Homo sapiens: one gene and its partners. The protein of the gene in region 2 purifies or fractionates together with the protein of the main gene of each other region. This does not show direct contact. Each region holds a gene or a part of one and is shown on either strand. Other genes may lie near its edges.

Region 1 (3,500 bases), 570 kb from region 2:
GGCGCGGTGGCCTATGCCTGTAATCCCAGCATTTTGGGAGGCCGAGACGGGCAGATCACGAGGTCAGGAGTTCAAGACCAGCCTGGCCAATATGGTGAAACCCCGTCTCTACTAAAACAAAAAACAAAAATTAGCCAGGCATGGTGGCACATGCCTGTAATCCCAGCTACTCAGGAGGCTGAGGCAGGAGAATCGCTTGAAACCAGAAGGCAGAGGTTGCAGTGAGCTGAGATCGTGCCACCGCACTCCAGCCTGGGCAACAGAGCGAGAGCCTGTCTCAAAATAAATAAATAAATAAAAATAAAAATTGCAATGGCAACTCAAGGGAGAGTTGAAGCCTTCTTGTTGTTCTACAGATTTGGGTGTGTACACTTGTATGTGCACACAGAGATTGTTTACATTGTTACACATTTTCACTTTTAATCTCTAAAATTGCCATCTCATTTTAAGATGAAAATAGAAGCTCAGTTTTTCATGATCCTGGTTTCTGTCAAATTCTTGATTTAGTAGGGGCCAAGATTACCAACATAGATAACTAAAGTATTCTACATATGATGCATTCCTTTTTAAAAATTTGTTTTAGAGGACAGAGGTTTAATCATTCTTTATGAGGCTGAGTGCAGTGGCTTACGCCTGTAATCCCAGCACTTTGGTAGGCCAAGTCAGGCAGATCAATTGAGGTCATGTTGAAACCCTGTCTCTACTAAAAATATAGAAATTTAGCCAGGTGTGGTGGTACGTGCCTATAATCCCAGCTACTGGGGAGGCTAAGGCATGAAAATCACTTGAACCCAGGAGGTGGAGGTTGCAGTGTGCCAAGATCACGCCATTGTACTCCAGCTTTGGCTAGTTATGTGGTACTGCTATGCTATTAATTTTTTTAAAAATTATTGTGATTAGGAATGGGATCTCACTATGTTGCCCAGGCTAGCTGGGCTCAAGCAATCCTCCTGCCTCAGCCTCCTGAGTAGTGGGACTATAGGTGTGCACCACTACGCTCTATTTTTATCATAGAATAAGCCAAAGGCAGCCTTTTATAACACTGTTTAGAGCTGAGTTAGGGATAATGAAAGCTTTAAATTGGGGGTAATTATGTACAGTACATGGCAAAGGCATAATAATGAGCTCTTACAAGTCAGTGATACCTAGGCAGGACCCCCAGTGGAGATGAAGTTTAGCTATTATCAGTTTACTTTTAAAAGTTTAACATCACTAAATGCAGTCAATACAATTTAAACTTAATCAATACCTCTTTTCATTACAAATCAGAAAGAAAAAAAAACGTTATAAGCAATCATTCCTCAGTATGATCATGGAAATGGGTTCCTTCATTACTCCTATGAGTATAAATTAGCAGGACTCTTTGGCATTTTGCATCTAGATCCTCAAAAATGTTATCCTTGACTCTTTATTTTTACACTCATAATTCATGAGTATAAAAGAATCATATGAAAGCTTATACACAAGCATGTTCCTCCAGCATTATTTTCCATCACAAAAAATAGGGGAATGGTTAACCATAGAATGAACACCCATTGGACAGATCCTAACTGGATATCATATAATATAGTATTACCTTTTGTAAGCCTCAATTTCCTCATCTTATGGAGTGAAAATTAATTGAGATAAAGCCTATAAAGTGTTTTTCACACCTGCCTGGCACGGAGTAAGCACTCACATAATAGCTATTAACTTTGATTCCTGAATGAATGCCATAGAAACCATTTGAGGCTCCCTCATTGTTACCAGTGCTCATTTTAACAATCCTGTTGTCCAAGAGTGCCAGGTTTTCTTCTCTCTATGCTTAGCAACAGTCCCAGTGGGTTCCGGCTAGCTTTCTGCATTTCGTAAAGTGGTCACAATAAATACAAAAGCCATGCTATGTTCCACATAGAAGTCGAAGTAGAAAGACTCCCATGCCATCCCATTCATTACCACATTTTACCACGTAAGTAATAAAAATCCACAGTGTCGGGGTGGGAGTGCCAAGGCTTCATAGGTTCCATTTGAAAACTTTACTCTGCAAAAGGAGATCAGCCCCAGGAACTAGTACCTAAGACAGACACTGGCCTCTTATATTTCATATCCTTTAGGTATTTGTCTGATACTTCTTCACTCTTAACTGCAGCCCTGCCATTTCAGCAGGCATTAAACTAGATTCCTGTTACATGTTTATATGCAGGAAATAGATTTTAAATGATGATAGGTGATTTTTTTTTTAATTCTTTGTGGTTTTTTTAATCAAGTTTTTTTGTTTTTTGTTTTTTGTTTTTTGTTTTTTTTGAGACAGAGTCTTACTCTGTTGCCAGGGTAGAGTGCAGTGGTGCGACCTTGGCTCACTGCAACCTCCACCTCTCAGGTTCAAGCAGTTCTCCTGCCTGAGTCTCCCAAGTAGCTGGGACTACAAGTGCGTGCCACCACACCCAGCTAATTTTTTGTATTTTTAGTAGAAACAGGGTTTCACCATGTTGGCCAGGATGGTCTCAATCTCTTGACCTCGTGATCCGTCCACCTCGGCCTCCCAATGTGCTGGGATTACAGGTGTGAGCCACCATGCCTGGCCACTTTAATCAAGTTTTCTACAATCAATATGTATTTCTCTTAAAATGAGGGATACAGCTCCTGATGTAAAGAGTTTTTCCTAGCCTTGCAATTACTATGGTTGCAAGAATAAGCAGAGTTTTTGGGTTGTGGTGAAGTATCTAAGCTAGAGTTTGACTAGAAATGAAGGCAGGTAAATTTGTAATCAGAAAGTCACAATGATTTGATTTGATTGTGAAAGTCACAATCCCCTGTGTTAAGTTCATGGACTCAAAGTAGCTTTCCCATATTTGTACGTCATTTTAAACATAAATTATGCTCTAAGGACCTTACATTCAAAAAGGGACGAAAGCATTTTTATGAATGATAGTGGTTATAGGAAATGTTTATTTCTTTTTTGTTTGTTTATAGTAAATCTGATATGTCTCGCTTGCGATTAGCTGCTGGTAGTGCCATAATGAAGCTTGCTCAGGAACCTTGTTACCATGAAATTATTACCCCAGAACAGTTTCAGCTCTGTGCACTTGTTATTAATGTAAGTAACAATCTTATTTTTGTCAATTACTTATCTTCAAAGTTGAATACATTACTTTTCTATGGATACAAATCCATTTATAATGTGAATATATGCACAAAAGTCACTACTATTATTACCTGTTTAACTGTCTTCCAATTATTACATTATTTATTCTCCCATATAATTATCTTCTTTTTAATTGAAGACACTAAAAATACTTAAACTGCTGTTTTTTATTTAATAAATGGTTGCCAATTTAAGTTTTTCTGTGCTGCTGTAGGATGAGTGTTACCAAGTAAGGCAGATATTTGCTCAGAAGCTGCATAAGGCACTTGTGAAGTTACTGCTCCCATTGGAGTATATGGCGATCTTTGCCTTGTGTGCCAAAGATCCTGTGAAGGAGAGAAGAGCACACGCACGACAATGTTTACTGAAAAATATC
Region 2 (3,203 bases):
ACCCTTGGTTTAGGTGCACTAAATGGCATCTTTGACTTTTCTATGAGTCTATTAGAAGATGATGATACTGTAAAACATTGTAGAACAGTTTTGGAAATGGTTTCATGATTTCTGGGGGTACTGTGGCTTAGGGACTCACACTGCTTCCTTTAAGTACTAGCGTGCTTAATTATGGAAGACAATCTAGAGGAAATGGATGAAATTAAACTAGGAGAGTTTTAAAAACTCTTTGTCTAGGTAATAGTTGCGAGGGTGAGTCTAGATTTCTGATCAGGAAAAAAGCTGTGGCTTCTTATGGTTCACACATTCAGTTCCTTGAAGGCAGGAGCAGGACCCATAGACAATTTGTAAAGAATCATTTCTTTTTGCTTCTGATGCTGGTTCTGATAACAACAACTTTTGAAGTTTTACGTATACAGGCTGGGTGCGGTGGCTCACGTCTGTAATCCCACCACTTTGGGAGGCCAAGGCGGGTGGATCACCTGTTAGGAGTTTGAGACCAGCCTGGGCAAGATGGTGAAACCCTGTCTCTACTAAAAATACAAAAAAAAAAATTAGCCGGGTGTGGTGGCGGGTGCCTGTAATCCCAGCTACTTGGGAGGCTAAGTCAGGAGAACCTCCTGAACCCGGGAGGTGGAGGTTGCAGTGAGCCAAGACTGCACCACTGCACACCAGCCTGGGCAACAAGAGTGAGGCTTCGTCTTTAAATAAATAAATAAATAAATAAATAAATAAATAAATAAATAATGTATACATATAAATGCCTGGTTTGAAGATAGAGGCAGCTGGGTTGGAAAGATTTAGGATGGTGGCATTTGAAATATTGTTTTGTTCAGTTGCTTTCTGTCTTTAAGAAGTGACAACATTTAAGAGAGAAAGAAAGAGTCATTTTATGATAACATTCGAGTTCTCAGCAGACCAGAGACTGTTTCCCTAAACCTTCCTCTGGCCACTGTGGATCACTTTTTGATTTTGTGGGAACACTCTGTAATTTTCTTAGATTTGGAGAAAAGCCGGCTCTAGAACTGACGATTTCAGAGTAACAGTATTAGGAAATGTGAGGGAAGCATTCATATATGATTTTGTGTGTTATAATCAGGGACCAAAAGGTGTTATACACATTCACACACTTGAGATAGGGAATTTCATTGCCTTATACTGATGCTTTTAATATTTTGGAACTTGGAACGAGTCATATTTATGAACACAAAGAAACATTCTGTTGCCTGGGCCTTAAGAGTAGGGTGGAAGTAGAATCCACGTATGTTTTTCAGTCACTGATGTAGGTAAGTAGAAAATTTCCTTTGGGCACATTGATGTGTACCCATTACCCTCATGCTGTGGTGCTGGGCTTTCTAAACTACACCAGCTGGCTGTCAAATAGTAGGCATTCCATTCAGCATTATTGAAATTGGATTGAACTCTGCCTGATTAACTCAGTGCTGTTATGCACAGTATGACTTGAGTTGATACTTTGCTGTTGACTATGTCTCTTTTGTTGTGGTTTCAGAACTTACTCCAGCAAAAGGACTGTAAACATGGATTATCTGTCGCTTCTAAGGGATGCACTTGTACAGCCCTTGACCTCACAAGGAGTAGACGGAGTACAGGATGTTGTTGCACTTATGGACACATATTATTTGATGAAAGAAGACTTTGAGAATATCATGGAAATCAGCAGCTGGGGTGGCAAACCTAGTCCCTTTTCAAAGCTGGATCCCAAGGTAAATCATGTCACTCACTGGTTCTTCGTCACTTTCTATTACCAGGTTTGTACTGACAATACTTCGGAGGTGTTTTAGATGCTTTAAGATTTACTTCTTTTTCCCCTCAAATGCTTGTTGCTTCTTATGGCCTATATTTTCCAAAGATACTATTTGAATGCAGTATTAAGAGTAGACTTCTGGGCTTGACTTTACAATTTGTATTTTTATCTTTGCTTTATGCTCAGTGGAAAAGCAAGAAGTGAAATTTGAGGAGCAAATATAAATATATTCTTTATAAAGGATGAGTGGATGAGTCTAGGGAATTAAAAGTTGAGCGGTGAGCTCTGGTGGTAATGGGTTGTAAAAATAAAATATGTTTATTGGCTGAGGATTTGTACAAATTTTCTTTTTCTTAGTCTACCTAATCTGTGGATTCAGTATTTATTCCAGTTGGATAATCTTCTCTGTAATAATGTATCCCCACTTTTCTTATAATGAGACGAAAAAAACTAAAGTGATACATCATGAATATGTAACATCCAATACCCAACTCTTGCACCTGTGTAATGAATGCGTTTTAGAAGACATATTCTCTGTAGTTTGCCCTCCCCAGAATTTTGACCCGACTTTATGGTTATCAGTAAATTCTCACAGCAGACATCCATTGTTAGAATTCATGGACTAATTCAGGAATTATGTTTAGAAGCTTGAAGGTAAGACTTTCAAGTTACTTAGTATTTTGAAGTAACTACTCTTATTATGGAAAAGGTATCTAGTGTTTTGTGGAAATTAAAGGCCAACTTATATCTTGTGATGAGCTCCCCCAACCTTTTTTTTTTTTTTTGAGACAGTCTAGCTCTGTTGCCCAGGCTGAAGGGCAGTGGTGCGATCTCGGCTCACTGCAACCTCTGCCTCCCGGGTTCAAGCCATTCTCATGCCTCAGCCTCCCAAGTAGCTGGGATTACAGGTGCACTCCATCACGCCTGGCTAAGTTTTGTATTTTTAGTAGAAATGGGGTTTCCCTATGTTGGCCAGGCTGGTCTCAAACTCCTGGCCTCATGTGAACTGCCTGCTTTGGCCTCCCAAAGTGCTGGGATTACAGGCGTGAGCCACCACACCCAGCCGAGCCCCTTTTTGATTTACTGATTCACTGATTAACTTTGCTTACTACTTTGTAGAAATGTGGAGAATGCTGAATAGGTAAACATGATGACTTGAAGTGACCTTTTGTTTGTTTGTTTGCCTAAAGTTCCCAAATATATATATACGTATTTTTTTTTTTTTTAGACAGAATCTCACTCTGTTACCCAGCCTGGAGTGCAGTGGCGCAATCTCAGCTCACTGCAACCTCCACCTCCTGGGTTCAAGATTCTCATGGAGAAGCATGAGCCACTGTGCCCCACCTTCAGTCTTTTTTGTCATGGGCTCTATTAAGAATGTTATGAAAAATATGGAACTTATCCACAGAAAAATGCACGTACTTAGATTTACATGTAT
Region 3 (3,185 bases), on a different chromosome or scaffold from region 2:
AGGTGAGAATTCACCAATGTGGTTGTGGAGAACTGGCTTGTTTTGCCCGTTGGGGTGACTGGAAGGAGTGGTAGCACCTGGGGCTCCCTGCTCAGGCCTGATGCCACTGCTCCCCAGGGACTGTCCTGGCTGTGTTTGGCTCCGTGAGAGACGACGGGAAGTTTCTGGTGGAGGACTATTGCTTTGCTGACCTTGCTCCCCAGAAGCCCGCACCCCCACTTGACACAGATAGGTGAGCAGCAGTTCTCGGGAGCTGGAACCAGCTCATGGTCAGTGGAATCTTTGAGTTGCACCTAGGAGGGGCTGCCTCCCTTCTCGGCACCCTGGAGGACCCCACCTTCTCCCGCAGGTTTGTGCTACTGGTGTCCGGCCTGGGCCTGGGTGGCGGTGGAGGCGAGAGCCTGCTGGGCACCCAGCTGCTGGTGGATGTGGTGACGGGGCAGCTTGGGGACGAAGGGGAGCAGTGCAGCGCCGCCCACGTCTCCCGGGTTATCCTCGCTGGCAACCTCCTCAGCCACAGCACCCAGAGCAGGGATTCTATCAATAAGGTATGGAGCCCACCTGGCTGCATTCAGCCCCAGCCCAGGAGCCTGCAAGCCTGTAAGACCCTCCTTCCCCAGGGCGAGTAGGGTACCCTGTGAGGTCTCGCAGGTCGGTGGGAAGCGCCCTGCAGTGACTCTGGGGCCTCCTGCAATGGGGCTCCTCATGCCCAGGCCCTCGCTGAGGATGGTGGGAGGCTTGAAGGGAGTGAGGGTCTATGGGACAACAACTGCATCTTCCAGCTGGTGGGGCTCTACTCTCCTCTGAGCCTGGGACTCGCCTGGGCCTGATGGCCTTCTGGGCTTCTATTCCAGGCCAAATACCTCACCAAGAAAACCCAGGCAGCCAGCGTGGAGGCTGTTAAGATGCTGGATGAGATCCTCCTGCAGCTGAGCGTGAGCGAGCTGGGGGCTGGAGGGGTGATGGGGATTGCAGTCTTCAAAGCTGCCACTGGGCAACAGAAGGCAGGCAGGAGGGCAGGGGGAGTGGCCGGAGTTGGTGTAGGGGGCTCCTTCGGGGCCCTGTGAGCTCTCCCTGCCCTGTGCCTTCCAGGCCTCAGTGCCCGTGGACGTGATGCCAGGCGAGTTTGATCCCACCAATTACACGCTCCCCCAGCAGCCCCTCCACCCCTGCATGTTCCCGCTGGCCACTGCCTACTCCACGCTCCAGCTGGTCACCAACCCCTACCAGGCCACCATTGATGGAGTCAGGTAGCTGGCACAGCCACACTTCAGTCTGACCCAGCCTTTTGCCTCAGGAGGCACAAAGAAGGGAGGGGAGGGAGGGCCCAGGAAGGTGGCAGGGCTGCAGAGGCCCACCTAGCATCTGTTCCTTCTCTCTGGGGCATCCCCACAAGAGCGCCAGATGAGCTCTGGGCTGACCACTATGGGTGGCACCCAAAGCCAAGAGTCAGCTGAGCTTTGCCTTGCAGATTTTTGGGGACATCAGGACAGAACGTGAGTGACATTTTCCGATACAGCAGCATGGAGGATCACTTGGAGATCCTGGAGTGGACCCTGCGGGTCCGTCACATCAGCCCCACAGCCCCTGACACTCTAGGTAACAGGCTCAGCCATACAGGGTGGGAGCAGAGGGCCAGGAGGCCTGGCAGGACCCTGAAGTGCACAGGGTCCCCCTGTGGGTTTGCACTTGCCAGCATTGCTGAGAACTGTCTGAGGAGAAGTTCAGAGGCTTGGCACCTGCTCTGGAAGCTACTCTGGAATCTTAATTCTAAGGCCAATGGCTGCCCACCCCAACGGGCAGCAACAGCAGGGCCAAGGTCTTGTGACAATGTCTGGAGGTGCCCCTATTGTCACACTGGGGGTCTCCTACTGGCCTGCAATGGGAGGAGGGGCTGCAGCCCCACATCCTGTGCAGAGTGCTAGTGCTGAGGCGGAACCCTCCTCAGAGCTGCCCCTTCTCCTCCAGGTTGTTACCCCTTCTACAAAACTGACCCGTTCATCTTCCCAGAGTGCCCGCATGTCTACTTTTGTGGCAACACCCCCAGCTTTGGCTCCAAAATCATCCGAGGTAATTTTTGTCTTCTGGGGGCCCAGGCTGATTTGCTGATTTGCTCTCACCTGGGGACAAGGTTCACAGAGAAGAAAACCTGCATTGTGGAGTCCCCCTGGCCCTTGTGGGATGGACAGCTGAGGTCTTCTGCACAGCTGCCATTTCACTGTGGGAGCCAAGCTGCCTCGCCAGCTGGGCAGGGACTGGAACGGCTCCCAGCCTGTGTGCCTCTCAAGGCTAATCTCTGGTCTCCTATTGTCACTGCCCCACTGTGTGCCAATGGGGACTCCTGTTTATTTCTGGCAGCTTCTCTTTGAGGCAGGACTTACTTGGAACCTACAGTGGGTCCTATGTGACTTCTTTGCAGGTCCTGAGGACCAGACAGTGCTGTTGGTGACTGTCCCTGACTTCAGTGCCACGCAGACCGCCTGCCTTGTGAACCTGCGCAGCCTGGCCTGCCAGCCCATCAGCTTCTCGGGCTTCGGGGCAGAGGACGATGACCTGGGAGGCCTGGGGCTGGGCCCCTGACTCAAAAAAGTGGTTTTGACCAGAGAGGCCCAGATGGAGGCTGTTCATTCCCTGCAGTGTCGGCATTGTAAATAAAGCCTGAGCACTTGCTGATGCGAGCCTTGAGCCCTGGGCACTCTGGCTATGGGACTCCTGCAGGGGTGCCCACAGTGACCATAGCCCATGCACCCACCAGCCGGTCTCCCTCCTCCCCATCCCTGACACCTCAGAATGTGAGCAGTCCGTGCCATGAGCTTGTTTTATTGGAGTGACCTTGGCTCCCTCCCTCTGCCCCTACTCCAACACTGCAGCAACCCCATCTCTTACGAGACTGGCAGGTGGAGCAGGAGCCTCTACACAGCCTCTGGCTCTTAGGTCCCAGTCATGTTTGCACCCCCTCAAAGGGGCAGGACCAGCCCTTCCTTTCAGTGTCCATACCAGGGGCCTTCCATGTGCTGATGGGTGATGTGACTGTGGTCAGCAGGCTTGGGAAGTGCTGCTGCTGTAGCTTGAGTTGGGCTGGGGTCTTGGTAGGACGCTGATCTCAGAAGTCCCCAAAGTTCACTGTGTAGGTCTCTACTGTTGTGAAGGGGAATGCCTGGCCAGTGGCTATCTCCTCCTCTTTC
Region 4 (3,500 bases), on a different chromosome or scaffold from region 2:
CTCCATAGCTTGCTCATTTTTTCTAGGGCACTGAGAGCATTTTTGTACAACATATTCTTTTGAAACAGCTTATTCTTCATGTGGAAATAGGCAAAGAGAGAGAGAGAGAGAACACATTGTTTGTTATTTACTGTAGCCCTAATCCCCAGGACCTGTATCCAAGTTGTTTGATGGAATAATTTTATCTTCTGTGCTTCAGATCTGCTTGGCATTAAAGTTACGGGTCTTTGTCTCCTTTCTAGCGCTCTACTAGCCGACAGTTTGTTGATGGTCCCCCTGGACCTGTAAAGAAAACTCGTTCCATTGGCTCTGCAGTAGACCAGGTAAGAATAGTCAGGCCAAGGTAACAGAGATTACTGGCCCCAAGCATTAAAACTTCTCTGAGTCAGCATTGCAGCATTGTTTTGAGAGACATGATGTTTAGTTAAAGTTTTTGTTTGTTTTTTGAGACAGAGTTTTGTTCTTGTAGCCCAGGCTGGAGTGCAATGGCACCATCTTGGCTCACTGTAACCTCCACCTTCCAGGTTCAAGTGATTCTCTTGTCTCAGCCTCCCACGTAGCTGGGATTACAGGCGCATGCCACCACGTCTGGCTAATTTTTGTATTTTTAGTAGAGACAGGGTTTCATCATATTGGTCAGGCTGGTCTCGAACTCCTGACCAGGTGATCTACCTGCCTCAGCCTCCCAAAGTGCTGGGATTACAGGCGTGAGCCTCCGTGCCTGGCCTTTGGTTAAAGTTTTTCTATGCAGTAGGATCCTTATCCCTATGAATGGAATTACTCTGATGTAGTAAACAACTGTCAGAGTGAGTCTTAGTTGCTTGAATATATACCCCCATGACCTATGTTTATCTTCTTAGGTACGAGATTTCTTTATTTTTACTTTTTAAAGTAGAGGGGGAGTCTCTCCTTGCTGCCCAGGATGACTCGAACTGCGGGGCTCAAGTGATCTTCCCACCTTGGCCTCCCAAAATGCTGGGATTGCAGGCATGAGCCACTGCACCCAGCCAAACATCAGATTTCAACATAAGAATGTTTCAGGTCAGGCGTGGTGGCTCACGCCTGTAATCCCTGCACTTTGGGAGGCCTAGGCAGGTGGATGATCACCTGAGGTCAGGAGTTCGAGACCAGCCTGGTCAACATGGCGAAATCCCGTCTCTACTAAAAATACAAAAATCAGTCGGCCAGGCGCGGTGGCTCACGCCTGTAATCCTAGCACTTTGGGAGGCTGAGGCGGGTGGATCACGAGGTCAGGAGATTGAGACCATCCTGGCTAACACAGTGAAACCCCATCTCTACTAAAAATACAAAAAATTAGCTGGGCATGGTGGCAGACGCCTGTAGTCCCAGCTACTCGGGAGGCTGAGGCAGGAGAATGGCGTGAACCCGGGAGGTGGAGCTTGCAGTCAGCCGATATTGGGCCACTGTACTCCAGCGTGGGCGACACAGCGAGACTCCGTCTCAAAAAAAAAAAAATCAGTCAGGTGTGGTGGCGCATGCTTGTAATCCCAGCTACTCAGAAGGCTGAGGCAGGAGAATGCCTTGAACCTGGGAGGCGGAGGTTGCAGTGAGCCGAGATCACGCCACTGTTCTCCAGCCTGGGCGGTAGAGTGAAAAACTCTGTCTCAAAAAAAAAGTATCAGACTGGGGTCTTAAGTCTTGACTAAGACTAAGGAATTTTTTACCTGCTCCAAAATACCCTATAGTGGAGGGTAAGTTAGATTCTTTGTTTGTCTTTCCTCATTACTACTTTTGTTGCAGGGGAATGAATCCATAGTTGCAAAAACTACAGTGACTGTTCCCAATGATGGCGGGCCCATCGAAGCTGTGTCCACTATTGAGACTGTGCCATATTGGACCAGGAGCCGAAGGAAAACAGGTCCATTGAATTTGTGACTAAACTGGCCTGTGTAAAACAACTAGCAAAATTTTGGAGAGTTGGTTTCTTAGAACCCTCTGGAGGCGGGGATTGGATGTATTGGGTAGTTTCTTACTGCTGCATACCGAGGACCAGAGAACTGCTTGTGTCATGCTTTACCTTTGAATTGCTAGCCCACTGGCATAACTTTAGTTTTTCTTGAAACTGTTTTTTTACATAGCCATTAGTTCTCACTTTTGGCTATGATAACAGATTACTGTTTATCTCCCAGTTAAAATTGGAGCTAAAATTTAGAAGGAGCAAAATACTTAAGACACAAAGCTTAAAAGTTGCTTGTTTTCTAGGTACTTTACAACCTTGGAACAGTGACTCCACCCTGAACAGCAGGCAGCTGGAGCCAAGAACTGAGACAGACAGTGTGGGCACGCCACAGAGTAATGGAGGGATGCGCCTGCATGACTTTGTTTCTAAGACGGTAAATCTGTGATTGTTGTTTGTGTTTTAATTTTTTAATTGTGAAAGTAATAAATACCAGGAATAAAGTTAAATACTTTAGTGTTATAAAGTTAAATGTCAAATTTCCTTCCTCATTCCAATTTTACTCTCCAGAAGTAACTATTGGTTACAGAGGTAAGTTTCTTTCCATTCTGTGAGTAATACTAAATTAAAGAGACCAACTTTTCTGAAGCAATTGTTAGTACTTTTTTTTTTTTAATTTGAGACAGAGTCTTACTCTGTCACCCAGGCTGGAGTGCAGGGGTGTAATCATAGCTCACTGTAGCCTTAACCTCCCAGTCTCAAGCAATCCTCCTGCCTCAGCCTCCTGAGTAGTAGGGATACAGATGTGTGCCACCACGCCCGGCTAATTTTTAAATTTTTTGTAGAGACTTGGTCTTGCTATGTTGCTCAGGCTGGTCCTGAACTCCTGGGCTCAAGTGCTCCCCCTGCCTCAGCTCCCAAAGTCCTGGGATTACAGGCATGAGCTACTGTGCCTGGCCCATTGTTAGTACTTTTTAGTGACACATGTTTACATTTTTTCTTGAATATATCACCTAAGATTTTCAAAATGTTTTGCTTTTGTACCATTTTATTTCCTTATAAAAATCCAAGCAAATTAACTGAGGCTCAGAGGAGTTAACTGACATTTTTGAGCCACATGATAGTAAGTGACAGATTTCACATCCAGGTTTTCTTTTTTTCTTTTTTTTTCTTGAGACAGAGTCTCACTCTGTTGCCCAGGCTGGAGTGCAGTGGTGCGATTTCGGCTCACTGCAACCTCTGCCTCCCGGGTTCAAGCAATCCTCCTGCCTCAGCCTCCCGAGTAGCTGGGATTACAGGTGCCCACCACCATGCCCGGCCAATTTTTTGTACTTTTAGTAGAGATGGGGTTTCACCATGTTGGCCAGGCTGGTCTCAAACTACTGACCTCAGGTGATCCTCCCGCCTCAGCCTCCCAAAGTGCTGGGATTACAGGCGTGAGCCACCATGCCCTGCCAACATCCAAGTTTTCTGCTCTTTGTAAACAAGTTCTTTCCACTATCACACACTGCTGCCTTCCAGTGGGATGACCTTAAACAAGTTACTTAAACTCTCTTTGCTTCTGTTTCCTCATCTTAAAATG

Evidence for each region. The genes of interacting proteins can lie anywhere in the genome.
Region 1: the proteins of RFC1 (region 2) and PDS5A fractionate together in Homo sapiens (co-fractionation; one large-scale study listed by BioGRID). This does not show direct contact.
Region 3: the proteins of RFC1 (region 2) and POLD2 fractionate together in Homo sapiens (co-fractionation; one large-scale study listed by BioGRID). This does not show direct contact.
Region 4: the proteins of RFC1 (region 2) and RACGAP1 fractionate together in Homo sapiens (co-fractionation; one large-scale study listed by BioGRID). This does not show direct contact.

What each region holds. Positions count from the first base shown.
Region 1 is NC_000004.12:39,862,912-39,866,411, reverse strand, and holds part of PDS5A (sister chromatid cohesion protein PDS5 homolog A), read left to right. Parts: intron 1-2,952; coding exon 2,953-3,076; intron 3,077-3,338; coding exon 3,339-3,500. UniProt on the Homo sapiens protein: Probable regulator of sister chromatid cohesion in mitosis which may stabilize cohesin complex association with chromatin. May couple sister chromatid cohesion during mitosis to DNA replication.
Region 2 is NC_000004.12:39,290,160-39,293,362, reverse strand, and holds part of RFC1 (replication factor C subunit 1), read left to right. Parts: intron 1-1,510; coding exon 1,511-1,724; intron 1,725-3,203. UniProt on the Homo sapiens protein: Subunit of the replication factor C (RFC) complex which acts during elongation of primed DNA templates by DNA polymerases delta and epsilon, and is necessary for ATP-dependent loading of proliferating cell nuclear antigen (PCNA) onto primed DNA.
Region 3 is NC_000007.14:44,114,180-44,117,364, reverse strand, and holds the end of POLD2 (DNA polymerase delta subunit 2), read left to right. Parts: intron 1-117; coding exon 118-232; intron 233-349; coding exon 350-548; intron 549-854; coding exon 855-935; intron 936-1,092; coding exon 1,093-1,250; intron 1,251-1,471; coding exon 1,472-1,599; intron 1,600-1,968; coding exon 1,969-2,070; intron 2,071-2,419; coding exon 2,420-2,580; 3' UTR 2,581-2,685; downstream 2,686-3,185. Other genes in the region: AEBP1 (adipocyte enhancer-binding protein 1 precursor), read right to left, coding at 3,104-3,185. UniProt on the Homo sapiens protein: Accessory component of both the DNA polymerase delta complex and the DNA polymerase zeta complex.
Region 4 is NC_000012.12:49,997,995-50,001,494, reverse strand, and holds part of RACGAP1 (rac GTPase-activating protein 1), read left to right. Parts: intron 1-242; coding exon 243-323; intron 324-1,761; coding exon 1,762-1,879; intron 1,880-2,223; coding exon 2,224-2,354; intron 2,355-3,500.